Linked DNA regions of Homo sapiens: region 2 is linked to region 1. A link means that fine-mapping ties the variant in region 1 to the expression of a gene that starts in the linked region. Tissue or cell type: thyroid. Region 1 holds a variant in brackets; the other region holds the start of a gene. All regions are shown on one strand. Distances are from middle to middle.

What was found. PIP is the estimated chance that this variant, and not a neighbour inherited with it, causes the effect.
Region 2: CCND2-AS1 starts here. The variant in region 1 is fine-mapped to the expression of CCND2-AS1 in thyroid (GTEx, PIP above 0.99). The same link has a PIP of 0.9 or more in transverse colon.

The regions. Positions count from the first base shown.
Region 1 is chr12:4,249,192-4,254,559 of GRCh38, reverse strand. CCND2-AS1 (CCND2 antisense RNA 1) reads left to right here. Exons shown (of 2, transcript NR_125790.1): 2 at 5,367-5,368. Among named protein-coding and RNA genes, the nearest start is that of CCND2, 22 kb to the left of the region's middle. The variant C/T (reference allele first, on the strand shown) is at 3,137.
Region 2 is chr12:4,272,984-4,278,351 of GRCh38, reverse strand. CCND2-AS1 (CCND2 antisense RNA 1) reads left to right here and starts at 2,168. Exons shown (of 2, transcript NR_125790.1): 1 at 2,168-2,293. It overlaps CCND2 (cyclin D2), which reads right to left and starts at 4,590. Exons shown (of 5, transcript NM_001759.4): 1 at 4,117-4,590; 2 at 2,132-2,347. The coding sequence starts at 4,311. RefSeq lists silencers at 4,660-4,749, 5,280-5,368.

The DNA of each region.
Region 1 (5,368 bases):
TATTAATGCCCTGTGTTGCAGATTGGAAATTTATGCTCAACAATGATATTTAACTTATGTAGATCACACAGCCTCTACATAGCATAATTTAGGATCCTGTGCTCAAATTACTGTATCCATAACTTTTTGTCATCCCACTTTAAAGAAAATGAAATTAGAAGTCTTAGACAATGCATTCTGAGTATGGCTTACATACTCAGTAAAATGGTATACAGCTCTAATCAACAGACCCAGACTCAAAAAGCTTTGGACTGCTACCAAGAGATTGGTAAATAAATGTACATTAACTTTAAATAAAATGTGTATGGTATGTATGATTCATTTTTTATGATTTCTCACTTTCCCAACATTTTCAGATAACTCATCGTTTCCTCAGTCACATCAGAGAGATCCTGATGGTTTTCTTTTTGGAACTTAACAGTTTAAAAACCTAAATAGGATCATGCCAAACATATTGTTCTGTGACTTGATTTTTTTCAGTGAATAATCATCTCTTGGAGTCTTGCTATGCCAGTACATATACATCTACTTCATTCATTTTAAGTGCAGAATGCTTTTCAATAGCAAGGATATGCCAGAATTTTACGACTTCCCATAATTAATGGCATTTGGGGGCCCTCCTTCACCAGTTGTTTGCTTGTATACATAATGTGCCATCAGCATCGTCGCACTTGCTTCTTTATGCATTCAAGTGCCAGTGGAAGGAGAAAGAGCTTGAAGTCCTGATTCTATCAATTAAGTGGTCCAAGAAAGAGAATGAGCATCTTGAGGTCTCCATCTTCAACAGCCTTACAGTCTGGAGGGAAGCAGACACACACACAGCTTTTACTTAGGGAGACGGGGGTCAATTGAAGGTTAAGGGAGTGCAAAAAGAGGGAGACTGAGGGGTTCAGTCGAGGGGATGACTGAGAAGGCTGCCTGGAGGAGGTGTGCTTGAGTCCTGGGTTCAAGGGTTAAAAGGCTCTGATACTTGGTCTGCTAATCTTTCTTATCGTATCGTTGCCTGGCAGTATGCCTGTTATTTGAGTGGACTCTTCTTGGACCATTTGCTTGGATGAACAGTGGGCAGAAGTGGAAAGGAAGGGTGCTCTGGACAAAGGTGACAAAGCCCAGGAACAAAAGTCGGAAGGTGCACAGTGTGCCCAGAGGGCCAGGAATTGGGTGGAGTGACTGGCTCCTTGGTCGCTTGCAAGTAGCATGAGAATAGAGAGGGCTGGGAGATGCATTAAAAAGCACCAGGACAAATTTAGGTTTGCACAGAAAAGGACGTTTCGTCAGGGTACGTGAGGAAAGTTGAGTAGAGAATTTAGGAATGGAGCAGACGACTCTGGTTGGGATGATGAGAGCGGAGAGACAGATCCATGTTCTTTCCAGGTGCCCCAGCAGCTCCAGGTCTCGCTGAACCTGTTACTATGGCAGCGTCTATGCTTCACTTTTGAGGATTGCTTCTGCTTTGAAATAGCCGTGTGGAAGAAAAACTACAAAGTTTTGAGGGGGAAAAAACCCACCTAACTTTAGCTGCCGTTGTGTCTTCATCTGTAAAAATCTTCTTCATGTCTCATGGATTTCAACATGCAGTTTATCTTGGTTTGTTCCATAAAACATCAGATGCAACTTTAATGGCCTAACCCCAAAAAGATAACTTGGCAGCCATCAAGCATTCAGCAGCGTTCCAAATGCCCTCTTGCTGGAGCCAGCCTTCTACGGGGCCATGTGGATGTCAGGCACACACAATTTGAGTCACGCTGACATAGCTGGGATGCCTGGATTGCACTGGAATCTGGGGGGTACCAATCACAGGCCAGAGAGAAGCCATTGGCTGGAAGGAACAATGCCAGCGTGTTCACCGTCTCTGCAGAAGGAGGGGGTGTTGATGGTGAGGGGAATGACAGTTGCAGCCAAAGGAGCAAAATGACCCCAAAGCAGGGTGGGCACATGTCATTGATGCTGGGCAGAAGCACTCCAGGGGCTCAGGTCATGACCACACCCCTTTTCTCCTGCCCCACAACCAGAAAAACTAAGAAGGTACAAGATTTTCCCTAAAACTTAATGTACAGAATGCCCTGCTGTCTTCAGGTTTTTGGGAAATCCAGGGTTGACAACAACAGCCCAAATATATGAAGCACTTACCTCTACCAGGCACTGTCTGTATCTTACAAATAATTCGTTTAATTCTCACAACTCCTTAATGAGGTAAGTTTTACAATTTCCATTTTATGATGAGGGAAACTGAGGCTTAGAAAGATTAAGAAACTTGCCCAAATCCTGCAGCCAGAAATGGGCAGAATCAAGACATGAACCACAGTCTCTCAAAAGCCAAAGCCTGGGCACTCACTACTACCCTCAACAGCCCGGTGGCTGGTTCATGCCATCTCTGCCACCCTCACACAGCCACCTCTTGGATGGTAGAACCCTGTGTGTTGAACAAGTAGAGTAACATTCTAAAAGGATTCTTTTTCCTCCCCTGTTTTCCTGGGGGCTGAGTAGACATGTTTAAACATGCTGTTCATCTGACACTTGTTTACTTCAGTGGCTATGATGTGCAAGACCCCAGACCAGGAACAGTAAGAGGGCATGAGGATAACCCAGCGTGGAGACCACTCTGGAGGAGGCTGCAGACTGGAGGCGCTGTTGTAGCCAGCTGCATTTTGGAGGCTGGGTTGCCTGTCTTAGATCTCTAATGAGTTTGGTCATTATTTTTTCAGCCAGGGTTTTCTTCCTCCCTCCCTGTCTTCCTTCCCTTTCTCCTTCCTTCCTTCATTCCTTCCTTCCTTTCTTCCTTCCTTCTTTCCTCCCTCCCTCCCTCCCTCCCTCCCTTCCTTTCTCTCTTTCCTTCTATCTTTTATTTTCTCTCTTTCTCTGTCTCTCTCTTTCTCTCTTTCTTCCTCCCTCCCTCCCTTTCTCTCCTTCTTTCTTTCTCCCTCCCTCCTCTCCTCCCTCTCTTGGTCTCTCTCTCTCTCCCTTCCTTCCTTTGTTCTTTCAAGATTTTTCTTTCTTTCTTTCTTTCTTTTAAAGGTGTAAGCCTTTTTCTGGTTCACTACATGCCAAGGACTGCGCTAAATCATTCACATAAAACCACCAGCGTGCATCACCTCATTTGGTCCTCCCACAGTCTAACGGGTAGGTACTGTCATTA[C/T]CCTCATTTTAAGAAAATGAAGAAACTGAAGCTCAGAGAGGTGAATTGATGTCTCCACCGTCTGCCTGATTCAGTACCCTGCACCCTTAACCACTATAAAAGAACAACATGCCAATAGTTCCCTAATGCTGTAAAAGGCACTGTTTTAAACGCATCCTTTATATCAACTCACTCACTCCTCCAAACAGGCGCAATAGAAATTACTATTATCCTTGTTTAATACATTGGGAAACCAAAGCACAGAAAAGTCATGTAATTTTCCCCAGGTCACCCAGCTAGTAAGTGACAGAGCTGGGCTTCTGTTTCACCGAGGAAGACATTCCTCAGTTTTTGTTCTGTTTTGTTTTTCACTTGAAATCCCCCGCGATGGCCCAGAGTGGAATGCCAGGGTCCTGAGAATAAAGTCTCTGAGCTGAACTGGGAAGGGGTGCCAGTGGCAGCTGTGTCCCCTACAGCTCTGGAAGGTGGAGGCGGTGGAGACAGCAACTACACAGCAGCCACAAGCCTGGGTCCCTGCCAGGGGAGACCTCAAAGTCCCCTCGAGGGTTGGCTTCTCTGTGCTGGGCCGTGCACAAAGGCGAGTCATGGCTTCCAGGAGGCCAGCAGAACATGGTCCTCGGGAGAGGAGAAAGCCCGAGGGAAGGGCTGATGGGACCTCAGCCCTCAGCTCTGAGAAGGGCTGCTCTTTAGGAGAGGGGATGTAGGTAACAGCTCCACCAAGAGCCAGGCAAGCAAAAGTAGGTTTCTGTTTGAGCAGCAGCTGGGGAATTTCAGGGAGAGAGAGGAATCCGTTCCCAACAGTGCATAATGTTCAACCCTGGAAGAGGTGACCATCAAGGGGGCCTCTAGAAAGAGTAGACGGGCTGCCCTTAGGCTGGCCTCTTTATTATCTCTGCCCCTGACCTTTGGGAATCCTGTCCATCTTTGAGTCCCTGGCGCCAGTGACTCCACTCTGCGAATCCCTTCCTGACCAGCCATCCCCCACACCCGTAAGACTCCAAGTTCTTTTTGGGGGACAGAAACCCCAAGTGTGCTGAGGTCCAGGCTGCTCCACATTCATCCCTGGGTGGGCTGTGGCTCAAACCAGTCATTTGGGTGACAGAAGTCTCAGACACTCTGGAAGCTGGCCCAGTTGGTCCTGGTGCCCCCAAGAACACTCATACCCTATTCTCCTGCAGCAAATATACCCTCTCTACTATTCGTTTGGCCTTGGCTATTAGGTATCATGTGACCTCGCTGGTGTGGCATCTCCTGGTGTTAGCGGCTTCTTGCATGAGTACATTTCTCAGATGATCAGACAACATTTATTGAACACTTACCATGTGCCACCTACCGCTGTAACTGCTTTATGGGGTTATCCATTTAATTCTCCCAAGAACCCCATGAGTTGATGTTGTTTTTATCACCATATTACAGAGAAGGAAATGGGGGCCTAAGTGCTCAGTGGCTACAGGATGAGCTGGGACTCAAACACAATATTGGAACCCCAGCCATCAAAATCTGTGATTTGTCCCTGGTTTGTGTCTCAACCAAAAGAAGTCAGAGTCTTTTTTACTCCCTTATATCTCCCGTAGCTCCCGGCCAGTGTCTGTATACAGTAGTTGTTCAAAAGATGTGGGCTTTTACTGACTGTTCAAAGACATTTCTAGGTTGGTTTTTTAATGATCAGTGAGACAGGGTGCCCTTAACAGGACAAAATAGTGTTGAATCCTTGGTAGACAAAATCAGGTGCTTTTTGGAAGAAATGAGAGAGAGATTTGCAGGCCATGTATTAGAAAACTTTGTTCCAAGTCTTTTTTTTTTTTTTTTTGAGACAGAGTCTCACTCTGTTGCCCAGGCTGGAGTGCAGCAGCATGATCTCGGCTCACAGTAACCTCTGCCTCCGTGGTTCAAGCAATTCTCCTGCCTCAGCTTCCCGAGTAGCTGGGATTACAGGCGTGCACCACGACGCCTGCCTAATTTTTGTATTTTTGTAGAGACGGGGTTTCACCATGTTGGCCAGGCTGGTCTGGAACTCCTGACCCCAAGTGATCTGCCTGCCTCAGCCTCCCAAAGTGCTGGGATTACAGGTGTGATCCACCATGCCCGGCCATGTTCCGAGTCCTTAAGGTAACAAGGAGAAATGTGAGAAGCCCATTTGGGAATGAAGGATGCAGGAAAGCCCTGTAACTGAGGCAGCCAATCAGAAGCTTTCATTAACGGCCCTCTTTCTTTTGTCCCCCACTTCCAGAA
Region 2 (5,368 bases), 24 kb before region 1:
TCACCGAATTAATAGTCTTTTTAATCTTCATGGAAAAATGATGCACACAGATAAAGCTCAAAATAAGGTTCCTTGGCCCAACTCCTTGGCAACCAATTAGCTTGCTTTTACTTAGTGCCAAAAAGTGCCTTTATCTCTCTGCTGCTCAAACTCCCCTTTTACATATCAGGCAGAAATTCTGGGGATGTGACACTCAGCCCTTTCCCCTAAATGTTTCACAGGCCATTGTCATCATGACTAAAGGACCACATGGTCATTAGCAACCTCATTTTGCAGATGGAGGTGATCTGGGGCAAGGTGAGGGTGCCTGCTCAGTGTCACAGCATCCCTCAGTGCAAGTGTGGGGACCACACAACCCTGTCTCTTGGGTCTCTCACCAGCAACCCACCTGAAAAAGAACCTTGTTTCCCTCTTTCACTGAGATACTTACGGGAAACTGTGCTCAAAGGGAAACGGTCCAAAATAAAACATTAAAAATATCGTATGTGCTACCAGAAAATATGCCTATCCACTGAGCTGTCATCAGAAGAATGAGAGGCAGGGCCTGTTTGCCAATGCACCCTCTCTCCCATTCACCTGGAGAACCTGGAATCTCTTTCATTTGCTAAACCAGCAACCAGAGCACCAGTCCCACAGCTGTGGGGCTGGGGGTGATTCCCTTTCCCTCCCAGGCCTCAGCCTTCTCATTTGTAAAATAGGACTCTTCCAAATCCCAACTTCTGGGATAAAGGGAATAGGAAAAAGCCAAGTTTGTTTGTAGCAATATATTGCTTGGCTAGTCCTGGAAAGATTTGGGTGTCCTGAAGAACATCTCAATTCACCATCCTCTCGAAACAAATGAACCATATGAAGATGATTTTTCCTGCTCTCTCATGAGAAAAACAAATTGGTTCCCAATTCTAACAATGTTTTCTTCATAAGCTTTAAAATCTGCCTTGGCTTTCTGTGTACAGCCGGGGTAAAGCACCCCAATAAACTACTAAACCACCATCATCTTCAAAGATGGCTTGAAATGCCAGCCCTTCCTCTTCACAGGGTAATGCGAGTACGAACCACTGGTCTTGCACCGTTATTAAAGGAAGCAGATCTCCCAGAAGAAAGCACCTTTCTAGGCCTCTCGGACCAAACCAGAAGCAGCTAAAACCTGGCAGCGGTTCAAAGGTGAAGTCATTCAGGCCCCTCTCCACATTCTCGGCAATTCCTCCCCCAACCTTGTGCATGTCTTCCACTAGATGGCAGCAGAGCCCCAGAAAGGAAGGCTCCTCACAAAGAGCTCAGTTCAAGAAGCCAGCCTCAGCCCTGTGGACTTTGTGCGGGCCCTACCAGTGAGGAGGGGGAGGGGCGGGAAGGAGGGGGTGCTTTTCTGAACAGTGCAAAGAGGGGTGTGCAAACCACCGAAGGTGGGCCTTGGAGCCGCTATTCCATGCGGTACAGCTGCAATATGGTCGTCTTATATGTCAAGCTGCAGGGAAAAGGAGTTAGATCAGGTGGGAAAAAGGTTCCCTGGTAGAAAAGCAGAGATAAGACAGGATCCCTGGGGTTGTACAGAGGTCACAGTCCCACTGGAGGTAGGAACCCAGGCCTCGGACTCCTTCAGTGAAAGGCCACATTTTGACTTTGCTCAAAAGTCAATGAACTGATATTTAGTGAACAGCTATTATGTGTTGGTATCTTGAGACTTTGTAGATATAGAGGGCATTACCTTTGAACTCCAAGTTTTTAGGAGACACCACAGCCACATACCTATCATGTGAACACGTTCTCAGACTATTTTTGGAAATTTGGAATTTAATTAAAATATTATCACTGTTAATTAAAATATTCCATGCGTCCCCTACACACATGCATACACAATTGCAAATGAGTCTCACCAACCCAAATCTCCATGAGGATCTTATTCACAGATGTAGCCTCAGTGCTGGGCACGGAGCCTGGGCACATAGTAGGAACACACAAAAAATAAACAGTGGTTTCCTATTAAATGAGCTATCGCCCATAAGTGGGTAAATTCTATTGGTGGGGTCATTCTGGATCCCAAGAATTTGCTCTGGCAGTGGTGATAGAAGGCATATTGTTGGCCAGGGGAAAGCGGGAATCGCAGAAAGGAAGGGAGGAAGGGGCCGGTCATTACCAGCAGCTCCTGAGGCTTGATGGAGTTGTCGGTGTAAATGCACAGCTTCTCCGCGGTCAGCGGGCTGGTCTCTTTGAGTTTGGAGGCCAGGAACATGCAGACAGCACCCAGGAGTTGCAGATGGGACTTCGGAGTCGGGACCCCAGCCAAGAAACGGTCCAGGTAATTCATGGCCAGAGGGAAGACCTCTTCTTCGCACTTCTGTTCCTCACAGACCTATAATGGGAGTGGGAAAGGGTTGGGGGGCGGGGGTGGAGAGCATAGCATCAGCAAAAGAGAAAAAGAATAAAAAAGCGTAATCTATCGAAACAAAAAAAATTAATTTTTTTTTGTGGGAGGGGGAGGGGACCAGAATGCGTGATAAGAATAAAGAACAAAGATGAGGAAACTGGAGTGAATCAGAATAGCCCATCAGTGCTTTGGTATTCCCAGGGATCCTATAAAAGGGGGTGAACTACAGCTCCAAAACGGGGAGTCGGAGAAGTGCGCAGCAGCCGCGGCAGCTCCGCGACGCTCCCTTTGGCTACTCCTTCGCGCACTCTAACTCACTCACTCTTTTTTGGATTTCGTCATCTTTTCAAAAAATCAATAAAAATATTCTGGAGGCTCCGGGGGTCCACTTCTTGGTCTCATCCGGATCCCCAGATCCTCCTCTATCATTCCCGACAATTGGAAAAAATGTCTGGGGGGGTCCCTGCGGCCCAGGGGCCGCTTTTGGGGGGGCGGGTGAGGAGAGGTGGGGAAGAGAGGGGGAGGGAGGAGAGGAGGAAGAGCGCCGCAGCCTCGGCAGCTGGAGTCGGAGCAGGGGGGGATGGTTTCAAAAAATAATTAAAAATCGAGGAAATATCCTAGAAAAGCCCTTTTGGCGTGAAAACCCCAAAGAAGAGCCAGGCTTCCCGAAACAGAGGTTTCGGGTGCCAGAAAGGTCTGTATTCCGACCCCTGGGGCTTTGGATCCCGGGAGGAAACTTGAAGGGGTGAGCGCCGCGGCGGGAGTGTCCGGCTGCGGCCCACAAGGACAGAAACTAGGGAACGCGGTGACGAGCGAGGGGAAAGACGGGAGCAGAGAGCCCTGGAAAGAGGCACGGGGGGCTCCCACCTCTCCTTCAGGGGTGACCCGGTATCCCCCCTACACACACCCCCTCCCCCCCTTCCTACCCCACCCAAATCTCCGCACCGAGGAAGCTGGAAAACCAAACTGTAAGTAATCTTCGTGAGGTGGGGGGTGGGGGAGAGGGCACGATTAGAAGTGGGGTGGCCGGGATAATGGGGTGCGAGGGTAAGCGGGCGACGTTTCCCAGCCTTTCCAAAGGGAGTTTGCAAAGCAACATGGCGAAACCACGGCAGGTCCAGAGCTGTGCATACGTGGGCACACGGCTCGCTGGGCAAAGACTTGGAGTGAGGGGCAAGAAGCGGTTCTTTTGGGTTCCCCTGAAACACGCGTTTCTTCAATGGGACTTCCGGGGCTCCCGAATTCCCCGTTTCTCTCCTTCTCCCTCCTCCCTCCACCTCCCCGGTGAAGTGCCAGCGCGGAGTCGCGACCACAGGCGGGGACCTGAGGCCAAGACGAATTTGCTCTGGCCTTTTGGGGGGGGTTGCCTTTCTACTCGGGGTCCCGATTTCAGGCCCCGACTCTCTTCCTGGCCGCAGCGCAAGCAGCCGCGGCGGCTTCGCAAAAGACAGGTCGCGAGGGGGGTGGGAAGAAGAGGCAGCCACATGCAGGAACACGCGCGCGGGATGCTCCCCTACCCCCGCCCAGGACAGCCTCGCTTCTCCCAGATTTTCCTCCCCCCTCTGCCTCCCCAGTTTATCTGGAGAGGAACAGAAATAAAGCCACGCGTCTCGCCAGAAGGCGCGCGGTAAACTCCCGCACAGGAGCCGGGAGGCCGGCGCGGGGATTGCCCTCTCCCAGGTTTAGGGCTCCGGCCGGGGACCCGAGCATCCGGAGGGGTCCTGGCTCCTGGCGAGCGCCACCCCCCGACCTACCTCCAGCATCCAGGTGGCCACCATTCTGCGCATGTAGGGTTGGATGTCCTTCTGCACGCACTTGAAGTAGGAGCACTGCGGAAGGTAGCGCTCCTCGATGGTGAGCAGGTTCTGCAGGACGCGGTCGTCTCGGAGCAGGTTGCGGTCCCGCACGGCCCTGCGGACCGGGTCCACCTCGTGGCACAGCAGCTCCATGGCCAGCCCGGCGGCCCCTCTCCCTCCTGCTTTCCCCGGCCTGGAAAAAGGTTTTTCTGTTTTTGTTTTTTGGAAGGGGAGGGGAGAGCGTTCCCCTGACCTCCTTCCTTTGGCTAAATAGGGGGTTTTCGGGGGAGAGGTGAGGGCAGAGAGAGAAGGTGGAGCAGAAGGGAGGCGAGGATTGGGTGGTGGGCGAGCAGAGCCTCGGGGCTGCCTCACTCGCACCGGTCCTCCCCTTAAAACTGGTCTCGCTCTCCCCTGCTCGCTCTTCTCCGCTCTGAAGCGGTGACGCAAGCTGGCTGGGCAGTTAGCTCTCCTCCCTCTCCCCGCGCTCCCCGCTCTGGTTCCTCCTCCCCTTTCCTCCCCTCCCGGTCCTCCCCTCCTCCTTTCAATCTCTCCCTCCCTCCCTCCTTTTCCCCTCTCGTTATTAAGGAGAACAGCAGCTGGCCCGACCCAACTTCAAACGCGGTCCCCCGCCACCCCCCACCCCTCTCCCTCCATCCAGCCCTGCATGCCAGGGGCCCCGGACAGGGCAACCCACAAAAAACTACCGACTCCTATTTCTGCCCTCTAATTTCACTCATTCTGTAGGTGTAGCACGCCAAAATACGACCCTCCAACTTTGGCTTCTTCAAAACGGATCCTAATCCTCCTGCCCTTGTATTTAAGATCCAGGAATGTAGGGTAGATTATCTGAAGATGGGGTGACCTCAGACAATTTAGAAATAGGTCCCTTAAGTGAAAAATAAGGGAGGGGGTGATTTTAGAAAATAGCAACCTCGCATACCCAGAGATAAAGGTCATGTCCCTGAAGTCTGTGTTCCTGATAACTTCGAAGCTGTTTCGAAAGCCCCGATTAAAGGGACCAGAACAACGTCCCTTCTGCCCCCCCCTGCAGAGTGTGTGCAGAGGAAGAAGAGGGAGGGAGAGGTGGGTATTAGGAAGGAAGGGGGGTGCTTCTCTGGAGGGATAGAATGTGATCCTCGAGCAGAAACCATCGTGTTTCTGGGGGCTCTTCGGGCGCCGTGGGGCGACGCGGTGCAGCGTCTAGGGCCGC